2 linked regions of the Homo sapiens genome follow. The protein of the gene in region 2 purifies or fractionates together with the protein of the main gene of each other region. This does not show direct contact. Each region holds a gene or a part of one and is shown on either strand. Other genes may lie near its edges. The genes, in order: RNPEPL1 and DKK4.

Region 1 (3,707 bases), on a different chromosome or scaffold from region 2:
CAGATTCCTCTTAGTAAAAGGACAGTCTTTGTTAGGAAAAACATCTTGGTGGGTGCTTGAGTAAGAGCCCTGAGGGCATGGCTAGTTGAGGTGGCTTAGCTTGCAGGATGTGAAGGTCTGATGGGAAGGGAAGAGAGATGTGGGGGAGAAAATGGCTGAAGAAATGAGGCTGAGTTGCGGGGTGGGGGCAGATGAAGGGCCATGGAGGGGACCCCTGGAGGGTAGAATGCAGGCAATGTTGAGAATGAGGATGCCTTGATTGACTGGAACTTATTTTTTTTTTTTTTTTACTCTCCACGACCTAATATCCCCAAGTGCATTTTCTGTTCCTATAACAATACCACGGACTGGGTAATTTATAATGAAAATAAATGTATTTCTTATAGTTCTGGAGGCTGGGAAGTCCAAGGGCGAGGGGCTGGCATCTGGTAAAGGCCTTCTTGCCACACCATTCCATGGGGGAAGATGGAAGAGCAAGAGGACACACAGCAAGAGACAGCTAAATTCATTTTTACAACACATGCTCATGATAACGAACCCACTCTGATAATGACATTAATGCATTCATCAAGGCAGAACCCTCATGGCCTAATCGCTTCTTAATGGTTCCACCTCTTAATACCATCACAATGGCAATTAAATTTCAACATGAATTTTGGAGGGAACATCCAAACCAGAGCACTGTTGACTGAGTTTTCATTTTTTATTTTAGTAATTGCTTTTTAAAAAATTTCCAGGGTCTCTGACTGGTTCTTTTTTATAAACTACCTGTTCTTGTTTCATAAGTGCCTCTTCATATGTTATGGTTTATTTCAAAAGTCGTCTTTAGGTCTGAGATTTTGATTATATGTGTTCTAAAGTCCTTTTCTGATTTTTCTGTTGCCTCTGTCTCAGGTGTAAGTTTGGGTTGAGTGGCCTGTTTTCCTTCACACTGTGTTGCTGCCCTGGGCAGGTGATTCTCAGTTGTGCCTTACCTTTACATCTGGAGTTTCCTAATGTTCTGTGCAAAGCATCTGGCCTTAGGAGAGAAACACCACCAATAAGTCCCAGTTAGAGTAGGGATGGCAGAGAAACACTCTGGGAGACAAGTCTGGACTGAACCTGTCATGGCCTGAGGGACTTAGAAAACCTTATTTGGACCTCCAGGGCCTAGAAATTTGCATGGGTCTCCTTCACTGTTTTTTCAGGCTTCAGCTTTCTAATCTATCTCTGTAGAAACCAGTCTTTCATCACGCTTCTTTTCCCTTTTTGAACATCATCTCCTACCTGCCTGACTAGGCCCTAATCCCCAAAATGCAGATCTCTCTCACATTCTGGCCTCAGCTCCGTCGTTGTCATTAGTGCTGTTTGCCATCTGCCCCCGCTTTTGTGCATATGGTGGGGTTGCAGCCCCTGTGGTTGTAGGCCCCTTAGAACTTCCACTGCCAGTGTGAGCCCCTCAACAGCTCTCTTATCCCTGGCAAGGTGCCTGGAAACATTTGAGATCTCTGTTCATCGGTACGGGTCCGAGAGTGGTCACATTGAAGAGAATCCCCCCTTCCCCTGCCAGCCTGAGGTGGGCCTGCAGCATGAGAAAGCTTTGTTGTGTGAGACGTCTGCGCTTCATAGTTGTGTGGCTGGAGCATAACGTGGCCTAATAGAGAAGCTGGCCGCTAGGAGAGGGGTGCTGTGCTAATAAAACGTGCGACCTGCCAGGATTTGGAATGTGGGCAGGCTGTTAGGTGGGGCAAAACATTTGGTAAAGCTCAACTGGGATGACTCATGAGGCAGACCGTGAGCTAAGTGTGCGTATCTAGTGGAGAGGTTGGGAAACAACACTGGCCTGAGTATCGGCCGGAGGCTGCATTGGACAAGGGACTGCAGGGAAGCGACGAGCTAAAAAAAAATTCTGCACTTGCAAGCTGGGTGGAAGAGGAACAAAGGTCAGGAACACAAGGACTTAGGGCTGAAAGAGCCCTCCTGTGTACCCCACGGGCGGGCACAGAGCCAAGACAGATTGTGGTGAGGGTGCCATCCTGGATCCAGATGCCCTCCTGCCCCCAGGGTCATGACGCTGGGCACTGCTGCTGAGTTTCCCAAAGCCAGGTGTCAGGCACAGGTGCGCAGCTCAGCAGCGTCCGGAGGTGGCGCTGTGGGCGTGGCTGTAGGCACGTGGAGTGGAGTCACCCGCAGACCACAGAGTCATTTCGAGAGCTGAATTGCAAAAGAAAGAAGAGCCCAGGATGAAAGTCTGTGACTGCTGGGACTTGAAAACAACCTTGGCGGGGAAGAGGCTGAGAAAGCAGTTCTGCCACTGAGCAGGGCTCCTTTGAGGACACCATCAAGCATGGTTAAGAAACAGGAAAGGGGTCCTCCCAAGGCTGGAGCCCCAGGCCACAGAGAACATGACTTGGGGGAGTGGGGTGTCCACTCCCAGGCAGGGGCCCTAGCTGTGCCTGCCTGGCAAGACTTTAGATGGCCATGCAGCAGGGGCTGCCAGGTGCCCTCCATACCCGCTTTCACAGGGGTTACTGCAGTCATCCTATCCCTGGGTGTGAGGGGCAGTGGCAGTCTTCTAGTTCCTAGGTCTCTGGATGGGGTGGCGCCTCCCCCAGACCTGATGTGAAGAAGGTACATGAAGCAACACATGTAGAGACGGCCCCAGACCCTAGACCAGAGTTGCCACCGCCACTGGAGGGGACTCATATGTCCTTGGGAGGGGAGGGGAGGGGCGGGGCATCCAGAACAGGAAGGAGGGTGAGTGGGACATTTGGTGACTGGGGACTGGACAGTGATGGTATCAGGGTTATTTGCCCAGCACCTCCTGCCCTCCCCACTTCCTGGCTGCCATGTGTGGAGTGGGGCTGTGACTGGGCCTGGCCAGCGGGTTGGGAGAAGAGACGTGCTGCTTCTGGGCCACGGCATGTTGGCCAGGTGTGCGTGGCACTGAGATGGTGGCGCCACATCCTTGGGGACTGTGAAGGGCAGCGACACCTATCGCCTGGGAAAATGGAAATCTCAGTTCTCCAAAACAAAACATGCCTGTCACCTTGTACCCATCTTGGGAAAGGATCACCACTGAGGCCGGGATTTGGCTTAAGCCACAGGTGAAGGCCCAGAGTGAAGGTGACACATGGCTTTCCTGTGACATCCAGAGGCTACTCAGGCCCAGGGGGTCCAGCCAAGGGGCTGGGCAGGATTCGGGGAGCCTGCTCTCGGGCTTATGTATCAGAGGAGGGGGCCACACCCAGCTCCTGACCAGCTCCAGGCCCCAAGTCCCGGCAGGCCAGCCCACCCTACACAGCCAGGAAGATGCAGAGGACAAGAGTCGCGAGAAAGAGCGCAGGAGATCAGGTTTGCAGAGTGGAAGTTTAATGGGACCATCACCGTGATACCCCATCACAGCAGTCCCAGGCTGGAGGCCCCAGGCTCTGGCCGCCTCTCCCAGCATGGTGGGCCTGGAGAGAGCACCAGCACCACCTCCCACTTTCCCTGGGGTATTGCTTTGCCCCTGTGCCTCCCACCCCAGGAAGCTACAAGAGACAGGCTGTCCTGTCCCCACACTCTCCCTGGGTCCTGGGACTCCCTGTTCTGAGGGGCTAAGGTTGCCTGGGGCCAGAGGGCCCTCCCCAGGGACAACCATCCTCTCCCTGTGTCCCCTGCCCCCCACACTGAGGGAATGTCTGTGTCCTTGTTCCTCTGCCAGGGGCCAACTGAGGCTGCCAACC
Region 2 (3,918 bases):
CGGCTTCTCATCGCGGGGCTGGAGGCAGAACTTTCTGGTATTGCAGTCCGTGTCAGACAGGCACTGTGAGCCCTGTGGAGGGAATCTGTTATCACAAGGCTAGGAAACCCCCAACACGATGGAAGATGACTTATTATTGAAGGCAGGAGGCGGAGGGAGCCAAAGGACAGTGGCGCTGTGACAAACCCTGGGCAGCATCTTACTCTCCAGTGGAAATGGTTTTCTCCCACAAAGGGAAGCTCATGTCACCCGGGGAGACCTAGGCGCTGCAAAGGCTATTTGAGTTTGAAAAATTGACTTAACTCAGAATTTAGTTTTCCTGTGCTCTTTGTGAAAATGGGAAAAAATGTTTTCCTATGTGTGTCTTAACAGGTGAGTATGAGATTTTCAATATATCTTAACTCTAGAAGCTGGCTACAGTTTCATTAAACATACTATTGATGTTTGTGGCATTCCTATTTGATTTTTTACTCTAGTGAATCACATTTAGCTTAGAGACCCTTCCCTAAGTGAACTGTCCTTTGATTTTCAATGATGCCTCATTGACATAGAGAAAGAGATACCGAAGATCAATTGTTCTCATACACAGTTGATGCTTCTACATAGACATACAACGTAGGTGTAGCATATATGATATATGTAATAATCTATACGATATATAATAACATATACACATACATAAAGCGATTCCTAAAACAACTCTCTCTGTGAAGTTAGATGGTGACAAGGCAATGCATCATGGCCCTCTGTTTAAATTCTCATTCCCATGTTTGCTTGCTGGCTGTGTGAGCTTGGGTAAGCTCTTCAACATCTCTGAGTCTTATTTCCTCATCTGGAATTAGGGAATGTTTCACCTATCTCAAATTGTGAGGAAGAGTACATGACGTATTACATGTAAAAGAGCTGGCACATAGTAGAGCTTCCAAAGTGTTCGTTTATTTCGTGATTTATAGACAAACGTATGGCCGAATGATGTGAAAAGCCACTGTGTTTATTTCATACATTCACACTAAGGCCACTGATCCTACCAGGATGCCCTCCCAAATCCGAAACCAATTCAATTTACCTGCTAGGTAAGACATTTCATACATGAATCAGAATGACTTACTAAAGCCTAAACAAAACACCCCAGCTGTCAGCAGTCCCGTACCTCGCCCCCCTCCCTAGCAGCCTTACCTTCCGGGCCCCATGCAGGTCAGCAGAGCTCCTGATGTTGTTGAAGTCCAGGACCAGAGCTCCCAGGGGAGAGCAGAGCCAGCTCAGCCCCAGCAGGACGGCCGCCACCATCCTTCAATCCCGGGGCTCCTGGAGGGTCCCAGCACTGTGCGTCACCAAAGCGAGGCTGCTCTCCACCCAGAGCAGAGCTTCCACTAAGCTGGCAGCTCAGCACGTCGTCTGTTTGTCACTGCTTTTTCTGAAAGAAGTAAACCTTAGTCTGAGTAAGGTGCGTGAAATCGGCTGAGCAAAGTCTGACCAGCAGGTTCCTCCTGAAACTATTTATAACCAGATGTGCCTCCTCCCCGCTCCGTTCCTTCCTCCTGCCCCACACAGGCTTCAACAAATCCCTTCAAATCTGTTTGATCAATAGTTCAAAACAAGGACTCAATAGAAGGAGAGAAGAGGCAGGGCCATGCGGCTTCTCCTCCAGGGGTTCAATCCCTCTTAATTATTGCATATCAAAGTTAGTTCAAAGGGCCACGGCAGAGCAGGATGTCTGTATCAAAGGCAAACTCTGATAATCACCTGCATTTCCTACCTTCAGTAATCCTTTGGGGGTAGGGAGGGAGTCTGCCCTAAGATCTGTTTTCACAGCTAATTGTGCTCAAAGAAAGGATGAATCATACTGGCCAATATGCTATAGAGGATGCCAAAAACTAATGAGGTACAAAATACACTGAGAAGCTGTAAACTGGGCTTCAGATAGTGAGGACAGATAGAAAAAGAGAAAACGCCCCCTGATTAGCTCTGGCATCCAGATGTCAAAATCCCAACCGCTTAAAAGTTGTGAACGTAACAGCACCTGTTCTGACTAAATGCCATTTGGGAAATTACTTTCCTTTAAATGAAAATTGAACTGTTTGAAGTTAGGGTTATTAGGAAAATAATGTAATTTATGAAAATCCCATTTTTCAATGGTGGGAACAATGATAGCGCATTTTACACAATTCAGTACGAAGCTTTGGGTCCATTTTATCAGCAACATATTTAATTTGTGTTGCATTATGTAAAACTCACTTAAGCAGAACAAGGATCCAAGTCTCTGGCTGATTTCAGATGAAATTTCATGTATTTCCAATTTTCCTAATACGAATTTTTTAAAACTTCTGCTTCATCCCTTTCCTGTCTGATTTTTTTCCATTTGGACTATTAGTCAGGTAATTTAGACATGTGCTTATCACTGTCTTAAATACTTTAAGGGTAGAACAATCTAGATCTGGATCAAAAAATCATTTTTTCTCTTCATTGTTTCATTGCTCTTAGCATAGAGTCATCTAAAATGCATTTTTTCTATGCCATAAATGATAATCTTATTATTTACTACATTTTCCTGCAGAACAACCTAACATCAATTCATTGACATGAATCTCAGCATTCTGTGCATGGGAACATTCTCAATTTTGAGTAATGCAGTGCCATTCCGAGGGTGATGCAGGTGATTCGAGCCTTCCTACTACTTGGCCCTTGTCCTTGGGTTGGTATTGCTTGTCTACCTCTCGTATGGAAGTTACTTGTTTTAATCCCTTAAACTGACATCAAACAACACCCTTTGATAGCATGATAACCCTGGTGACTAGGGGTGTTACAGAATTTATTTTCAAGTTGTACAATTATGACCAAGGATAAAGGAAAGAGCCCCCAGGGTTCTGTCTCTGCCGGGTTTCTCTGCTTCCTGCTGCCTCACTGTAAGGGAATTTCAGGTTACCAAAGGCCCCTGGCAATATACACAGGCGAAAGAACTGACGGGAACTCCTGTAACACGGCACAAACAGCCACTGAGCACTTAGAGCACTTGGCATGGAACAGAGCCTCGGATTACATGTTAGGAATAAAATTTGAAACTCCAATGGCCGGGCACAGTGGCTCACACCTGTAATCCCAGCACTTTGGGAGGCCAAGGTGGGAAGATCTCCTGAGCTCAGGAGTTCAAGACGAGCCTGGGCAACATATTGAGATCCTGTCTCCACAAAAAAAAAAAAAAAAAAAAAAGTAGGCCGCGTGCGGTGGCTGACGCCTGTAATCTCACCACTTTGGGAGGCTGAGGTGGATGGATCACCTGAGGTCAGGAGTTCGAGACCAGCCTGGCCAATATGGTGAAACCCTGTCTCTACTAAAAATATAAAAACTAGTCGGGCGTGGTGGTGGTCACCTGTAATCCCAGCTACTCGGGAGGCTGAGGCAGGAGAATTGTTTGAACCTAGGAGACCGAGGTTGCAGTGAGCCAACACGGTGCCACTGCACTCCAGCCTCGGCAACAGAGTGAGACTCCATCTCAAAAAAAAAAAAAATTAGCCAGTCATAGTGGTGTTCACCTGTAGTTTCAGCAACTCAGGAAGCTGAGGTGGGAGAATCATTTAAGCCCAGGAGATTAAGCCTATATATATATATATATATATATATATAGAGAGAGAGAGAGAGAGAGAGAGAGAGAGAGAGAGAGAGAGAGAGAGAAAGATTCAGACAGAAAACTTGTATGTATGGATGACAGAGCCTGGGTGACACAGAGAGAGAGAGAGATCCAGATAGAAGACATGTACATATGGATGATTTCAATGTATTATGACAAGCACTAAAATAAAGGTATAAATATAAGGGTGGAGGACTTATGAAGATATAAATACAGACGAAGGCATGATTTAGACTTTCTAGAGAAATAAAGGAATGTGTTTACAGATGAGGTAATATTTGAGCTGAATTTTG

Evidence for each region.
Region 1: the proteins of DKK4 (region 2) and RNPEPL1 purify together in Homo sapiens (affinity purification with mass spectrometry; 2 studies listed by BioGRID and IntAct, with this or other methods). This does not show direct contact.

What each region holds. Positions count from the first base shown.
Region 1 is NC_000002.12:240,578,355-240,582,061, reverse strand, and holds the end of RNPEPL1 (aminopeptidase RNPEPL1), read right to left. Parts: 3' UTR 690-3,707; downstream 1-689. UniProt on the Homo sapiens protein: Broad specificity aminopeptidase which preferentially hydrolyzes an N-terminal methionine, citrulline or glutamine.
Region 2 is NC_000008.11:42,375,759-42,379,676, forward strand, and holds the start of DKK4 (dickkopf-related protein 4 precursor), read right to left. Parts: upstream 1,472-3,918; 5' UTR 1,288-1,471; coding exon 1,177-1,287; intron 73-1,176; coding exon 1-72. UniProt on the Homo sapiens protein: Antagonizes canonical Wnt signaling by inhibiting LRP5/6 interaction with Wnt and by forming a ternary complex with the transmembrane protein KREMEN that promotes internalization of LRP5/6.